2 separate regions of the Homo sapiens genome follow, and region 2 is linked to region 1. Evidence: fine-mapped expression QTL. A gene starts in region 1. The other region holds a variant in brackets. All regions are shown on one strand. Distances are between the middles of the regions.

Evidence for each region.
Region 2: its variant is fine-mapped to the expression of RIC3 in blood mononuclear cells (TOPMed, PIP above 0.99). The same link has a PIP of 0.9 or more in T cells, esophagus mucosa, esophagus muscle, gastroesophageal junction, left ventricle and sun-exposed skin.

What each region holds. Positions count from the first base shown.
Region 1 is chr11:8,165,087-8,173,804 of GRCh38, reverse strand. It overlaps RIC3 (RIC3 acetylcholine receptor chaperone), which reads left to right and starts at 4,780. Exons shown (of 6, transcript NM_001206671.4): 1 at 4,780-4,939. The coding sequence starts at 4,816. RIC3-DT (RIC3 divergent transcript) reads right to left here and starts at 4,735. Exons shown (of 5, transcript NR_187234.1): 1 at 4,616-4,735; 2 at 3,817-3,920.
Region 2 is chr11:8,121,303-8,130,020 of GRCh38, reverse strand. RIC3 (RIC3 acetylcholine receptor chaperone) reads left to right here. Exons shown (of 6, transcript NM_001206671.4): 5 at 3,214-3,362. Among named protein-coding and RNA genes, the nearest start is that of RIC3, 43 kb to the left of the region's middle. The variant A/G (reference allele first, on the strand shown) is at 4,156.

The DNA.
Region 1 (8,718 bases):
TCCATATACAGTGGGCTGTACTTGCCATCTCTACTTCCTTGTCATTTGCTCCTTCTTCAGCCTATAGCCATTAGACTTTTGATTTTTTATCTGAATTCCCTATCGTTACTTTTTTTTTTTTTTTTTTGAAGCAGACTCTCGCTCTGTCATCAAGGCTGGAGTGCAGTGGCATAATCTCGACTCACTGCAACCTCTGCCTCCTGGGTTCAAGCCGTTCTCCTGCCTCAGCCTCCTGGATGGCTGGGATTACTGGCATGCACCACCATGCCTGGCTAATTTTTGTATTTTTAGTAGAGATGGGGTTTCAACACGTTGGCCAGGCTGGTCTCGAACTCCTGACCTCAGGTGATCCACCCACCTAGGCCTCCCAAAGTGCTAGGATTATAGGCCTAAGCCACCACGCCCAGCCCCCTACCAATACTTTATTGGAAAACCTAAACCCTTAAGATCTTCAATTTTAGTGCACTCCCAGCTCTGATGTTATACCACCAGCCACCAGAGAGAGCAGCCATCCCAGGTCCCACTCCAAGCTGCCCCAGCTCCATGAGCTGCCTACCAGCTCTGTCGCCTTAAGGAGGCTTCCATGTCTTCCAGGTGCACATCCCAACTGACTGCAACAATGAATATGTTCCAAGCCAAATACTCTGTACTATAACTGTGTTTTCACCTTTCTCTAGGCCACTTCTAGGACTAATGAGATCACGATCTCTGCCCATTTACCTTGGCCACCATCTAAATTCCAAGCCCCCAAGGTCATCAATTTGCACACTGCCCCTCATCTCCATCCTGCTCACTTCATATTTTACTTTGACTCCATTTCTGACTTCCAAAGCTTCCACTTACCGTGCTGTATAGAGTCAAGAGCTATCATCAGAAAAACTCCTATATCCTTGACTTCTTTGAAGTTTCTCTTAACTTTCTTCTTCTTTTTTCTTTTTTTTTTATTTTGAGATGGAGTCTCACTCTGTCACCAGGCTGGAGTGCAGTGGCGCGATCTCAGCTCACTGCGACCTCTGCCTCCTGGGTTCAAGCGATTCTCCTGCCTCAGCCTCCCAAGTAGCTGGGATTACAGGCGCATGTCATCACGCCCAGCTAATTTTTGTATTTTTAGTAGAGGTGGGTTTCAGCATGTTGGCCAGGATGGTCTTGATTTCTTGACCTCGTGATCCGCCCCCCTTGGCCTCCCAAAGTGCTGGGATTACAGACATAAGCCACTGCGCCCGGCCTGTCTTCCTCTAATGAAAACTAGGCTGTTGCCTCTGGGTTCTGTTTCCCTTGCAGATCTCCCAAAGTAAGAGCTATTTTTCTTCCCACAGCTTAAAGCCTGGGAATAGAATAGATGCCCAACTTGTTTCCCCTTGCTGCTTCCAAATTGCTTCTTCCTCTTCTTCCTTTAAAAACCATAGCTCCTGGCCAGGCGCTGTGGCTCATGCCTGTAATCCCAGCACTTTGGGAGGCTGAGGTGGGTGCATAACAAGGATCGAGACCATCCTGGCTAACATAGTGAAACCCCATCTCTACTAAAAATACAACAAAAAAATTAGCCGGGCGTGGTGGCGGGCACCTGTGGTCCCTGCTACTTGGGAGGCTGAGGCAGGAGAATGGCGTGAAGCCAGGAGGCGGAGCTTGTAGTGAGCCGAGATTGCACCACTGCACTCCAGCCTGGGCAACAGAGCAAGACTCCATCTCAAAAATAAATAAATAAATAAATAAATAAATAAAAATTTTTAAACAATTAAAAAAAAACACAGCTCCTTAGAAGAGCATGTCATCTGGCTGCCCATTACTTCTTCTGTTCCTGTCACCTTCCAACCTTGTAGTAACTCCACATTCATTAAAGATTTTAACACTTGGATCACTATTTCCCACCTCATTTCTGTCCTCATACATGGGAACTTCAACATAATGTTGTGACCTAGGTTTCCATTGTGGCTTCTTACAACTTCACATGAGCACTCTCACTAATGCCATCTTCTCCTAGACTTCATTTACTATAGATGGGCTGATGATTTCCTATTGTTTCTAGCCCAAACATCTCTTCTGAGCTCCAGGCCCATATATCCAACTGGATATTTCTACTTGGATATTTCATGGAACTTCAAATTCAGCTAGTCAAAATCTGAACTCTTCATCTTTCTCACAAACCTGATTCTTCTATTCTTAAAATCATGTTATATAGAATTAATGTCTACCATTTACCCAAGCTAGAATTTGGTGGCGGAGGGCGGGGGGGAGTGTGGTCATTCCAGACCCCTCTGTATTTCTTAGAGACCACATCCCATTAGTCACCTCCTCCCTAAGCTGCATCTATAGTCCAGGAGTCCAGAGGTTTTCTGACTAAACCTCCCCAGACAGTAAACCTGGTAGCTAAGAGGGCAAATTCTTGAGTAAGCATGCCTGTGTTCAAATCATAGCATCCAGTTTATACTGTGTAATTGTTGGCAAGTAAATTATGTTTTCTGGGGCTCCATTTTCTTACCTGTGAAATGGGTATATAATAATATTGCTTACCTCTTGAAGTTATTGGGAGGAATAATTATGATATGTAAGATGCCTAAAACATAATTAGTACTCTAACTTTTAGTGATGTTAATAACATCAATGATAATAATGCCCGAGTGAAGCCAGCAGTGGCACCCATCTGGCTGCATGAATCAAGGAAAGAGATTCAGAAGATATCCATTGCTTTAAAAAAATCAAACAATTTTTTTTTAGAGACAGGGTCTCACTCTGTCACCCTGGCTGGAGTGGGTGCCCCTACTGGCTTCATTCAGGCATTATTATCATCTTATATATCATAATTAATTGTGGTTTCACACAATCATAGCTCACTGCAGCCTCAAACTCTTGGGCTCAAGTGATCTTCCCACCTCAGCTTCCTGAGTAGTTGGGACTACAGGTGCACACCACCATGCCTGGTTAATTTTTTACATTTTTTTGGTAGAGATTAGGGCTCTCCCTATGTTGCCCAGGCTGGCCTTGAACTCTTGGCCTCAAGCCATCCTCCAGCCTTGGCCTCCCAAAGCCCTGGGATTATAGGTGTGAGCCACTGTGCCCAGTCTCAACTGCTTTTTAATCAGATTTCCAGCCAATCCTTCATTCAGACCCACTCTGCACCCTTGGCTTTAAAGGAACCCAGTACCTCCAATTCTTAAGAGCATGGGTTCTGAGGGGCAAATTAGTTCACTCCTTACAGGCTTTCAGTCCACAGGCATTTAACTTTTTATGCTCTACACCTGCACTGTCTACTGTGGGCGCCAACGAGCCACACTATCGTGCTGATAAAATTTGAAATATTTTTGCTATCTTGGTTTAAAATATTATTAAAATAAATTTTACTTATTTTTACTTTTTAAATGTGGCTACTGGAAAAATTTAAATTACATATGTGGCTGGTATTATGTGTCTATTGGACAGTGTTGTGTGCGTCTTACAAAATTGACATTTCTCATCTGCTGTCATGTTTTCTATCATTGCATTTAGTCTTGTAGTTTATATACTTTATTTCTTTATTTTCCTTTTTGGGCACTGTCCCAGGAAAGCAAAGATAAATGCATATGTTACATCTGTCATGTTTAACTGGAAGTTCTACCTAAGCTTTTCACAATGTAGCTCCTGCTTATATTTGTGCACTTCGTGTCCTGTCACTACTCTATGGCCCTGCCAAAATGAATTACCAATAGCTTTCTGAACACACCAGGAAGCTTCCAGATTTGCCTTTATTTTTTTGGCCTCCTTTTTCCGGAATACCTTTCTAACCCCTCCCACCTGTCTGCCTATAAGTTACTCATTTTTCAACAGCTAACTCAATTTCACCTTCTCAAAGGGGCTTTTCTTGACTTTTCCTCGTACCAGTTGAGAAGACTGCTCGGGGATCCAGAATATTTCCTGCATTTTTTTTGTTTGGATAATTATCTGTCCTACAAAGGGAATCCATTTTATTCATCAGACCCTGTAGTGCCAAGTTGAGGGTCTAATACATAGTAAAAACTAAAATAATGTTAAATGAACGAATGAAGAGAGTAACAAAGAACGGTGGGATTGTAGAGAAAGGAGAGGCTGACTGAAAACGTTTCGAGAGAGCAGTGTTTTTAAGCTGTTCTTCAGAGAAGTTTTTGACAACTGGAGATGGTGTCAGGAATTTTCCAGGCAGTGGGAACAGGACAAGCAAAGCTTCCCTGAAGACAAGCAATATGCTAAAGAAATAGCAAATCATCCAGTTTGGAAGGAGCATTGGTAAGACCAGATCATGCAGGGCGTTGAGGTTATAGAAAGGAGTTTAACTATTGTTCTGAAGATAATGGAGAGTTAAAAGGTTTAAGCTGGAGAGAAAGAGAATTAGTCTTGTGTTTTAGCATTATCACCTGTGGCTGCAGACGGATAATGAATGCGAGGGGCATGAGTGGAAGCTGGAAGACAGCGAGATCATGGAGATGAGGAGAAACTGGATGTTGTGATCTACGGGTGGGTGGGGGGCAGTGGTGGTAAGTGGGGATAGAGATCCGGGCACGACCGCCGGATGTGTAGGCGGTAGAATGCACAGGACTCAGTAAAAGATGAACATGGGGAGTGAGGGAGGAGTTTTTAGTTAGTATGAACGGGAAGGCGAGGGTACCATTTACAGCGACGGGTAACCACGCGGGAGGAGCAGGTCAACTCCCGACAGTGGAGGTGAAGATGCGTGCGCCTCGCGCACCTTGTCCCTCGCGCGACGCCGTCCGCGCCGCCCGCGGTTCGGTCGGGAGCGGCAGCCCGTGCTCCGGTTCCGGTTCCGGTTCCGGCTGGCGTCTGCACCTGCGACCACCGTGAGCAGTCATGGCGTACTCCACAGTGCAGAGAGTCGCTCTGGCTTCTGGGCTTGTCCTGGCTCTGTCGCTGCTGCTGCCCAAGGCCTTCCTGTCCCGCGGGAAGCGGCAGGAGCCGCCGCCGACACCTGAAGGTAAGAGCAGGCCAGCTCCCTCTGAGCTTCCCGGCGCCGAAGAGTACGGAGAACGCTGCTTGAGGGAGGGGTGACTCTGAGAGTCTGCAGCCTTCACCGAAATATCCACCAAACTGACTGGAGAGGGCGGGCGAGACGGCGTTGAAGGGCCAATGCCCACGGTTCCGTTGTTATCAGCGGGTGGCGGCCCAGATGGTTCTGCTGCTGGAAGGGTCAGGAACGTATGCATGCAGGTCTGTGCATCCTCTAGGTGGCCTTGCGTACTCCCGTTTAGGCGCAGTCCCTTCTCTCTTACCCCGCTGGCTTAACTCATCTCGTCACCATTTGTTCACGTGCTTTGAGTCAAGGGTTCCCAGTTGGGTTTCCCTCTTTAGGTTTTCCGTGTACTTTCTGACGCGCCGCTTGGTACGAAATCAAGGCAAATGGAATTGGTACAGCAAACCTTAAGTCGTTATGTTTTTTCAACTTGGTGCTGGGCGCTCACTGCTTCAGGCTCTTCTTGTGCCTTTAAAAATATATCTTGAAGATTTTAATAACCCCAGTTTCAGTTACTGAGGTGGTTATGAACAAATTATTACGTTCCCCTTATTGAAACAGTATTTATCTGTTAATTCTTCGTTGTTGGCATGATGTATGTGGTGTTTAAAAATTCATCCTCTTAGCTGCACTGGGGCCTTTTACAGAATGAGTGTAAAGGCACGGTGCTGAAGGCTGGGAGAAGGAACCAGAACAGTTTTCTATAGGTCATGAAGTTCTACTGGTAACTTTCTCCTGTAAATTATCCTTGTAATATCTTTGAGACATGATTTTACGGTGTCTGAACACTTCCAGTAATGTTTAAACTGTTGATTGCTGGACAGCTCCTTTTGAACTGTAATCCACTTCCGTCTGCTTTATGCACATTGACTGTAGTTCCATTCTCTTGAGCATCATACACACTATAAATGCAAAGCACCAAGCTTTAGGGGTGGAGGGCAGGTTGAACACATAATTCTGTTTACAGAATTTGCCTGATAATCTTTATGCTTGTAAGACTATCCACTTGGGACGGACTTCTAAAACATCTTTGCGTATTTGTTCTTTTTTTTTCCTTTCTGTCTTATTGCAATAATCCCAAAGATTTTTACCTGCTTTGTCTAATGATATTGTCTACTTTGAAGAAGAGTCAATTCATGATGATCCTGAACAGTGAAGATTCTTCGAAAACTTTTTTTTTTTTTTTTTTACTTTCCATTATGGTGAATTATCTTGAACAAGTACTATTGACTGTGAGTGGGAGACACTCTTCTGAACGTTGTAGAAAATGTAGAGTGGAGATTAGACATGGGTTGTTCCCTTGAGAACTCAAGTGTTGGTATTCAGTGTTCTCATGTTAGGATCTTTGTACCTTCAGTTCTCTTTATTCCTGAAGTGCTGTGCTTTTCCCTCAGTGCCCTTCTCATCATTCAAATTTCTGCTCAAATGAAACCTCCTCAGAGAGACTTCCCCTGATGACACTAACTAAAATAACTCTTTTCTCCCATCATTCTCTATTTTATCATGTTTTATATTCTTCATGATAGGCATCACTATATGATATGGAATATTCTTAAGTGTTTACTTGTTTGTTTTTTTGTCTTCACCTTCTAGAATGTAAGTTTGCAAGGGTAGGGACTTTGTCTTGTTTACCACTGTTTCTTCAGTACCTGGCATATAATGGGCAGTCAATAAATACTTTAAGATTATTAAGCTACCAATACTGTAAATTCTGTTTTTGACAAGGAGAAGCTACTGAAGTAGTATAACCTAGGAAAAAACTTACCTTGAATGGTACATTCCAGTAACTGAAACTTGCAGCAAAAAATCTTAACCATTTTGGGGTTACATACACCATTGAGAATCTTATAAAAGCTATGTATTTTCTTTCTTTCTCTCTCCTTCCTCCCTCTGTCCCTCCCTCCCTCCTTTCCTCTCTTCCTGGCCCCCTTTCCCTTTCTCTTTCCCTTTCCCTGGGTCTCACTCTGTCACCCAGGCTGGAGTGCAGAGTCATGATCACAGCTCACTGCAGCCTCTACTTCTAGGGCTCAACTGATCCTCCCACCTCAGCCTCCCAAGTAACTGGGACTACAGGCACATGCCACCATGCCTGGCTAATTAAAAAAAATTTTTTTTGTTTTTGGTTGAGATGGGGGTCTCATTGTATTGTCCAGGCTGGTGTCGAACTCGTGGGTTCAAGTGATCCTTCTGCCTCAGCCTTCCAAAGTGCTGGGATTACAGGCTTGAGCAACTGCACTCAGCCTAAAACTGTATGTTCTCTCTAGAAAAAGGTACATACTCTTATTGTACTCAGAATTTCAGTATCAATTCAGAGAATTCTCAGAACCCAGAAATCCCTGCTTTGAAGAAAGGAATAACCCTGAGTATTTGAAAATTCTTAAAAATACATGTTGTTATGTCTTCCATTTTTGCCCATTGATGTGCATGAAACAAGCACAGTTCCCTTTCCACATGAAAGCCTTTAAGATAGTCTTTTAACAAATATTTATGATGTACCATATCACATACTGTGCACATAGTGTATAGACACTATGTATTCCAAGAAAAAATGAGCGAACTCCATGCTTTGAGGCGGCCACAGTTTAGTAAAGGAAAGTAGACATGTCAACAGATAAATGCAAAACAGACATGTTAGCAGATAAATGCAAGAGTGTCAGTCACAGTTACTCAAGTCTGCGCAGGGAACAATGGAGACATGTATGCAATGGTCAGTGTTATTGGGACTTAAGAAGGGTTTCATAAACCAGGTGTGACAGCTCATGCCTGTAATCCCAGCATTTTGAAAGGCTGTGGTGGAAGGATTGCTTGAGCCTGGGAGTTCGAGACCAGCTTGGGCCACATAACAAGACCCCCATCTCTACAAAATAAGTTTGTTTTTTTTCAATTAGCTGGGCATGGTGGTGTGCACCTGTAGCCCCAGCTACTCTGTAGGCTGAGGTGGGAGGATCGTTTGAAGTTTGGAGGTCAAGGCTACAGTGAGGTGTGATTGTGTAACTGCACTGCAGCCTGGGCAACACAGTGAGACTCTGCCAAAAAAAAAAACAAAACAAAACAAAAAAAAAACCCCAAAAAACAGGTTTCATAGAACATAGAGGAGGGAAGTCTTTTTTTTTTTTGATAACAGCTTTCTTGAGATCTAATTTATATATCATACAATTCACCCACTTAAAGTGTACAATTTATTGGGTTTCAGCATATTCAGAGTTGTACAACCATCACTACAACCAATTTTAGAATATTTCTTCAGCCCCCAAAGAAACCCTGTACTTTTTAGCTATTACTCCACAAATCCCCCAGCCCACCTCCAGCCCTAGGCAACCACTCATCTACTTTATGTCTCTATAGATTTGCCTGTTCTGGACATTTGGTATAAATGAAATCATATAATATCTGATCTTTTGTGACTGACGTCTTTTAACTAGCATAATGTTTTCAAGGTTCATCCATGTTGTAGCATGTAGCAGTACTTTTTTTATGGCTGAATAATATTTCATTGTGTGGATATACCACATTTCATTTATTCATTAATCAATTGATGGACATTGAATTTTTGCCTTTTAGCTATTATGAATAATGTTGCTACTGATATCTGTGTACAAATTTTTGTGTAGACTTAATGTTTTCATTTCTCTTGAGTGTATACATTTGGAAAATGTGAGCATTCCAGTGTGGCTGGAACTAAGCGTGGAATTTCTAGGTTGTATGGTTATTACATGTTTAACCTTTTGAGGAACTGCCAGACC
Region 2 (8,718 bases), 44 kb after region 1:
ATTAACTAAGATAAAATACAAAAGAAGGGAAAGTACATAAGGCTTTGGAGTTGGGATCATAAGTTCAGCACTGAGTGTGTCTGAGATGCCATCAGAACATCCATGTATAATATGAAACAGCAATAGGAAATTTGGTTCTTGAGGTCAGAGCAAAGGGCTCAGGTTTGGAAGTCATTGGCTGGGAGTGAGAGATGGAGAAAATCTCCATGGAGAAAGGTGAGATCACCAAATCTTTGAGGCATATCAGACTCTGCTGCAGTATCCTGAAATCTTTTACTGGTCTGAGTTCTGTTCTAACCATGAATGGTATTAACATCTATTTAATTCTCTGTACTTAACTCTTGCATTTGGAACTTGATGATTCTGCTGGGCTTATAGAATTCAAAATTCTGGTGAGGGTGTTTCCCAACTGTGACCTTTTATTTTTCTATCATCTTAGAATCTTCCATACTCAGCCTCTTCTGGTCTTCCTGTTCATGCAGTTGCTCACGATCCTGAGCCAACTGGGACCTGGTTTCAAGAGGTGAATTTAAGGTTAACTTTAACATAGTTCCAAGGCCTCCAAGTGGAAATGCCCAGGAAATAACTGGAGTTGTGAGACAGGAATTTGTGTGGAAAGTCAAGATTAATAGTAGCATTAGGACATCTTTTCTATAGAGGTGATGGTCTAATCTGTAATACTGGGTCAACTTCCTGAGGGCATGATTATAAGAATGGAGAAATGAGAGTCCTAGGATTGAGCCTTGGGAAAATTGTTTTGGGAGGTGGGTGGAAAAAAGTGAGTCAGGATCATAGATAAAAGGAATGTTTAAAGAAGTGGGAGAATACAAATGTCTCAATAGCTAAGGGAGGAGGAGGTTTCAAGCAGAGGATGGTCTATGGTATAGAGAAGTCAAGAAGAATGAAATGTGAGAAAAAGACCCTTGGACTTAGTAAAGTGAAAAATCACTTAGGAGTAAAAGTTTTTGGCCGGGCGCTGTGGCTCACGCCTGTAATCCCAGCACTTTGGGAGGCCGAGGCGGGCGGATCACGAGGTCAGGAGATTGAGACCATCCTGGCTAACACGGTGAAACCCCGTCTCTACTAAAAATACAAAAAATTAGCCAGGCGAGGTGGCTGGCGCCTGTAGTCCCAGCTATGCGGGAGGCTGAGGCAGGAGAATGGCGTGAACCCGGGAGGCGGAGCTTGCAGTGAGCTGAGGTGGCGCCACTGCACTCCAGCCTGGGCGACAGCGAGACTCCATCTCAAAAAAAAAAAAAAAAAAAAAAAAGTTTTTGCAACTTTTCATAAAATGATAGAACGGAATCCAGAATTCAGGGAGGTGGAAGAAAATAATGGATGGTGAGGAAATGGGGATCAATCAAACTAACACGTAATTATTGAGCTCTTAACAGTGATCATGGCATTGTGTCTATACTGTTGTCAACTTAATTATTACTGCCCTCTAGGAGTATCAAACCAAGTTGAGATGATAAGGAATCCATGAAAATATTCATTGCAATAAATTCAGAAGATGTCATAAGGTAGACCATGATTAATGCATAATGCATGATATGGACAATAAAAGTATACTTGTTAAGAGTGAAATGAGGATGCTTTGGTTTGGAGTTCTCTGGGAAAGCTCTTGTCTGTTCCTGCTTCCTGTAGTCTACCCATCCTCTTTTAGGATAAGGGCTTCTGATTTCCCATGACTTAGGAAACAGAATTAAGACTGTTTCATTCATTGAAGATCAGAATGCCCTGCGTACAGTCTGGAAAAGTAACATGTGCCGCCTGAAGAGACAAGAGTTTGTGATAAGCAGGTAAGCTCTTCTAGTCTGCCCCAGAAGCCTCACACAAAGTGGGTTGTTTTAACAGTAAGAAATAGGGGTTATGTGGGACACACGAGCAGTTGTGGAGAGTCAGGACTCCTGTACTGATGGGAAGAATAGAGCTATCAGAGGCCCTGTAAGTATAGGATTTTAGCTGAATGTGGAACAGACAGGCATCTTTAGTAGTTCATGGCTTTGAAGCTGCTTGGTGTGGAAGAAGTGGAGCTCGTGGTGTTTTCCATTTTCCTTTCACTGAGGTCTCTGGTAATGTTCATTTTCCTCAGTTACTATCTTCATGTTGAAAGGAGAAATACTCTTTTCATTTTCCTTATTAGTCATTAAGGCTAAAGTTAGGCTGAGCAGAGAAATGAATGCAGGCTCAGAACTGGCTGTTAGAAAAATAGACGACCATCTCCACAGGCTAGTACATAGTACATCATTTTTCCTTTGTAAGTGTTGTATTAACTTGTGTCTGGGTTTTAAGAAGAGAATAAGTAGCCTCCATTAAATCCTGCTGCTAGATAAAACTGGTCTCAAAGCAGATAGTTATCAGTCTTCTAAGTAGGACCTTGTTTGCCTGTCAGTGTGATGCAGTGCTTTCCTCTAGAAGAAAACAATCAAACTGTTATCCTTGAGTCTCATGTTATTTTTGCAGATATTTGCCAGAACCACACAAGTAAGTTGGGATTCAAACCAGGTTTTCCAAAATGTGGAACTTGAGCACTGTGCTTCAAGAATTGCGCAGAATGCAATCAGAAGCCTGGGTGGTTTTAGTTATAGTGCTTCATTAAGTGGCAGTATGAATATATAAACAATATTTCTCCTCTGTGGACCCCAGTTTCCTCAATTTCTCTAGTCTAGATGATTGAATTTTCAAAATCACCCACCTCTGAAATTTTAGAATATATCCTTATACCTGCACACGTAAATTAAGCCTGGTGATTCTAGTAGCATAAATTTTCCCCGGTTGATGCTAATGGCCCAGAACGTTTTCCTTTGATGACCTTGCTTCAGAGAAAAGTGGCTTGTAGTAAATGGAGTAATGTGAGTAGCAGTGAAATTGTTAGGCGATTAGAGAATCAGGGCATTGACATACCCTGAAAAAACACTGAACTAAAAGCTGAGACATCTGGGGTCTGGTCCTAGTATTGACATTAACTAATTTCGGGACCTTGGGCAATCACTTGATCTATTCTGGGCTTTAATTTTCCCATTTATAAAATCAAAGCATTGAACTAACATCTCTAGTTCCCAGCTATGCAGTTGGAGGATCAATTCCTAGAATAATTATCTGCTGCAATTGCACTTTCTATTCCAGTACCCAGACAGACCATAGTGATGTTTACGTCCATTGCCTAGGAGTATTTACCACTAAATGGTTGGATTGTCTGATATTTCTAAGCAGAGCACAGACTGTGACTTCTGACCAAGAGAAACGGTTGCTACATCAGCTCCGAGAAATCACCAGGGTCATGAAAGAAGGAAAATTCATTGACAGATTTTCTCCAGAGAAAGAAGCTGAGGAGGCCCCTTACATGGAGGACTGGGAAGGTAAACAGTGTCTTCTCATTTTTTTGTTAGCTGTCAGCCCAGAAAAGAGATGTTACAGATTTTTAAAAAATCAGCTTCATTATTGAGGTATAATATATAAACAGTAATATTAACCAGTTTTAAATGTACGGTTGGATGAGTTTTGACAAATATATAGAGTTTGTGTAATCACACCGTAATTTTGATAAAGAACATTTCCATTACTCCAGAAAGCTCCCCCTTTGTAGCTAATGCCCTTCTCCTGCCCCTGGAAACAACTGAAGTGCTTTCTGTGCCTTTAGTTTTGCCTTTTCTATGTAAGTGATCATACTGCATATACTCATTGGCTTCTTTGATTTAGCGTAATACTTTTGACATTCATGTTTGTTATTGAGTGTATCTGAAATTTTTTTCTTGCTGAGTAGTAGTCAGTTATATACTTATACCATAATTTGTTTGTCCATTCACCAGTTGAGGAGCGTTTGGGTTATTCCTAGCTTTGCACTCTTATGACTCAAGCAGCTATGAACTTTTGCATATGAGTCTTTGTTTGAACATATATTTGTATTTCTTTTGAGTCTATACCTAGGAGTGAGATTTTTGGGTTTAAGGTAATTGTATATTTAACTTTGTTTTTGTTTTTCAAGACAGTCTCACTTTGTCGCCCAGGCTGGAGTTTGCAGAGCAATCTCAGCTCGCTGCAACCTCTACCTCGTGGGTTCAAGTGATTCTCCTGCCTCAGCCTCCCAAGTAGCTGAGATTACAGGTGCCTGGCACCACACCTGAATAATTTTTGTATTTTTAGTAGAGACGG[A/G]GTTTCACCATGTTGGCCAGGCTGGTCTCAAACTCCTGACCTCAAGTGATCTGCCTGCCTCAGCCCCTCAAAGTGCTGGGATTATAGGTGTGGGCCTGTGGGCCACCGCGCCCGGCCACCTGTTTAACTTTATTAGAAACTGTCAACCTGCTTTCCTAAGTAGGTCTACTTTTTCCCTTCCCACCAGCGGTGTATGGCAATTAAAGTTCCTCCACATCCTTGGTAACACTTTGTCTTGTCAGTCTTTTTAATTTTATCCATTCTAGTGAGTGTAAAATGATACCTTAATTGTGACTTTAATTTACCTTTCTCCAGTGACTAATGATGATGAACATTTTTTCATGTGCTTATTTGCCATCTGCATATCTTTGAAGTGTCTGTTCAAGTAGTTTGCCAATTTTTAAATTGGGTTGATTAGGTTCTTGTTGGGTTGCAAGAGTTCTGTATATATTCCGAGTACAAATTCTTTATCATTTCTGTATTTTGCAAATATTTTCTGTAGCTTGCCTTTATATTTTCTTAACAGCATCTTTCAAAGAGTAGAAGTTTTAAATTTTGATGAAGTCCAACTTAACCATTTTTTTCTTTACGATTTACTTTTTTTTTTTTTTTGAGACAGAGTCTTGCTCTGTCACCCAGGCCGGAGTGCAGTGGTGCCATCTCGGCTCACTGTAAGCTCCACCTCCCAGGTTCATGCCATCCTCCTGCCTCAGCCTCCCTAGTAGCTGGGACTACAGGCGCCTGCCACCATGCCTGGCTAATTTTTTTGTATTTTTAGTAGAGACGGGGTTTCACCATGTTAGCCAGGATGGTCTTGATCTCCTGACCTTGTGATCCACCCACTTCGGCATCCCAAAGTGCTGGGATTACAGGTGTGAGCCGCCGTGCCCAGCCCATTTTTTATGTTCTGTTTAAGAAATATTTGGCTAACCCAAGGTTTCCCAATTCCCATGTTTTCTAGAAATTCTACAGTTTTAGCTTTTACATTTAGGCCTGTGATCTATTTTGAGTTAACCTTTATAGATGATCTGAGGTGTCAGGACTGAGGTTTATTTTTTTCCATATCAAATACCCAATTGTTCAGCTTCTTTTGTTACATTTAATTAGCTTGACATTTGCTTGACAAACCAGTTGACCATGCGTGTGCTTGTCTCTTCTGGGCTCTATTCTGTTCCATTGATCTGTATGTCTCTACTTGTACCAATAGCACACGGTCCTTATTACTATGTCTTTATAGTAAGTCTTTATTTTGGGTAGTTCAAGTTGTTCAGATTTTTTTTCCCAAGATTATTTTGGCTATTTCCTTCACAATTTCAGATAAATTTACAATCAGTTTGTCAGTTTTTATGAAAAAGCCTGATGGGATTTTGATTGGTACTGCTTTGAATCTTTAGATCAATTTGGAAGAATCAATACTGTAACGATATTGAATCTTCTAGTTCATGAACGTCTTATATCTCACCATTTATTTAGATCTTTTAAAAGTTCTCTCAGCAGTGTGTTGTAGTTTCCAGTGTATAGGTCTTGCATATGTGAGGGATATTGGTCTGTGATTTTCTTTTCCTGTAATTTCTTTGGTTTTGATTTCAGGGTAATCCTGGCCTCATAAAATGCATTGGGATGTGTTCCTTTTTCTATTTTCTGGAAAAGTTTCATAGAGTTACTGTTATTTATTCCATAAAAGTTATGTGGAATTCTCCAGTGATATTATCTTGGTCTGGAGTTGCTTGCTTGCTTGCTTGCTTGCTTGCTTGCTTTCTCTTTTTCTTTTTCTTTTTCTTTCTTTCTTTCTTTTTTTTTTCAGGGTCTTGCCCTGTTGCCCAGGCTGGAGTACAGTGGCACGTGATCATGGCTCACTGTTTGATCTCCTGGGCTCAAGCAACCCTCCCACCTCAGCCTCAGTAGCTGAGCCTACAGGCATGCACTACCATGCCTGGCTAATTTTTTAATTTTTCAATTTTTTAAATTTAAAAAATTAGCCAGGCGTGGTGGTGCATGCCTGTAGGCCCAGCTACTCATGCCTGGTCTTGAACTCCTGCTCTTAAGCAATCTTCTGGTCTTGGCCTCCAAAATGCTGGGATTATAGGCATGAGCCACTGTGCCCAGTTGGCCTGGAGTTTTATTTGTGGGAAGATGTCTATGAATTTAATGTATTTTATGGATATAGTGCTATTCGTTCATTCACTTCTTGAGTGAACTTTTGATAGTTTGTATCTTTCAAGGAATTTACATAGTTCATCCATATTGTCAACTTTATTGTTAGTATAAAGTTGTTCATAATATAGTCTAATTATCCATTTAATATACGTAAGATCTGTAGGGTGCACCCTCTTCTATTCTTGATCCTGGTAATTTGTTTCTTTTCCTGATCAAGCTGCCCAGAGGTTTATCATCCTTGTTGATCTTTTCAGAGAACTGTAATTTGGTTTCTTTTTGTTTGTTTGTTTCTTATTTCATTGACTTGTGTTTCTTTCTTTCTGGTACTTTTGGTTTAATTTGCCTTTCTCTAGTTTCTCAAGGTGGAAGCTTAGACCCATGATCTATATTTTTGGCCATTATTTTATTAATGATCTGTGTCTTTTTGTCTCTCTTTTATTTCCTTCTGGCTCTCCAGTTGCATATATGTTTGATATTGCCCCACAGGTCATGTGAGTTCTGTTCACTTTTTTTTTTCTTACCATGCTTAGTTTTGAATAGTTTTTCTTGCTATGTCTTCAGGTTTATTGATGTCTTCTTCTACTGTATCTAACCCACTGTTAATCTTATTCAGTGTTTTTTAATTTCAGACATTATCATCTCTAGAAGTTTCATTTGGGTCTTTTTTATGTCTCATTTATTCATATTTTACTCTCTTAAACGTATGATTCATATCTGTAATAGCTTTCTTGACTGTTTTAATTGCTAATTTCATCATCCATGCCATTTCTGGGAATGTTTCTGTTGACTAATTTTTCTCCTGGTAATGGGTCCTAATTTCCCTTTTTTTTTTTTTTTTTTTTTTGCATACCTGGTAGGTTTTGATTGGATGATGGATATTACAAATTTTGCATTGTTAGGTGCTGGATTTTGTTTTAGTACTTTAAATAGTGTTGGATTTATTAGGTTAGCATTTAGGTTAGTAGAAAATAGTTGAATCCTTTAAAGCTTTAACATTTTTTAGTTTGGGTCCAGAACAGCCTTTATTCTAGGGCTAATTATTTAGTTATATGCTTATACCATAATTTGTCCATTCACCAGTTGAGGAACATTTGGGTTGTTCCTAGCTTTGCACTCTTATGACTCAAGTAGCTATGAACTTTTGCATATGAGTCTTTGTGAATATTTATAGCAGCTTAATTTCAATAGCCAAGAACTGGAAACAACCCATATGTCTTTTAGGAGGTGAATAAACTGTGGTACATATATATATACACACTGTGGTATACACTTAGCAATAAAAAGGAATGAACTATATATACAACAACCTAGATGAATTTCCAGAGAATTATGCTGAGTAGGGGGAAAAAACTAATTCCCAAAGGTTACATACTATATGATTCCATTTATAATTGACGTGGCAATATTATAGAAATAGAGGACTGATTAGTTGTTGCTAGGAGTTAAGAGGGGAATAGGAGTAGGGAAGAGTGAGTGTGCCATGAAAGGGCAACATAAGGGGTCCTTGTGGTGATGGAAAATGTTCTGTATACTGACTATATCAATATTAATATCCTGGTTGTTATATTGTAGTACAGTTTTGCTAGATGTTGCCTTTGGGAGAAACTGGATAAAGGGTACATGGGATTTCTGTATTACTAGTAGTAGTATTTTTTAAAGGGATAGAGTCTTAACCATGTTGCCCATGCTGGGACTCAGGCGATCCTCCCACCTCAGCCTCCTGAGTAGCTGGGACTCCAGGTGCATGCCACTGTGCCTGGCTTGTATTATTTCTTATATGCTGCCTGTGAATCTATAATTATCTCAAAATAAAAAAGGTTAATTTTTTTAAAAGCAACACAAATTCTAAGGGAAAAGATTGTGTAGCTTAAATACATAAAACTTTTACCTTCTGCAGATCAGAGAATATCACACAGTTTAAAAGACAAGAATAAACTGGAAAAATATTTATAACAAATATGATTGAAAAAAGTTATTATTATTTTTTTTGAGACAGAGGCTTGCTTGCTTTTTTGCCCAAGTTGGAGTGCTGTAGCTTGATATCTGCTCCCTGCAACCTCTGCCTCCTGGGTTCAAGTGATTCTCGTGCCTCAGCCTCCCAAATAGCTGGGACTACAGTCATGTGCCACCATGCCCAGCTAATTTTTTTAGTTTTAGTAGAGACACGGTTTTGCCATGTTGACCAGGCTGGTCTTGAACTCCTGGCCTCAAGCGATCTGCCCACCACAACCTCCCAAAGTGCTGGGATTACAGACGTGAGCCACTGCGCCTGGTGGATATATTTAATATATTAAAAAGTTCTAGAACTAATTTAGAAAACACTGATATCCTTACAGATAAGCAGTTCACAAAGAGAAAAAAATGCAACCAGCTATGAAACATATAAAAAAGTATTTTAATCTCACA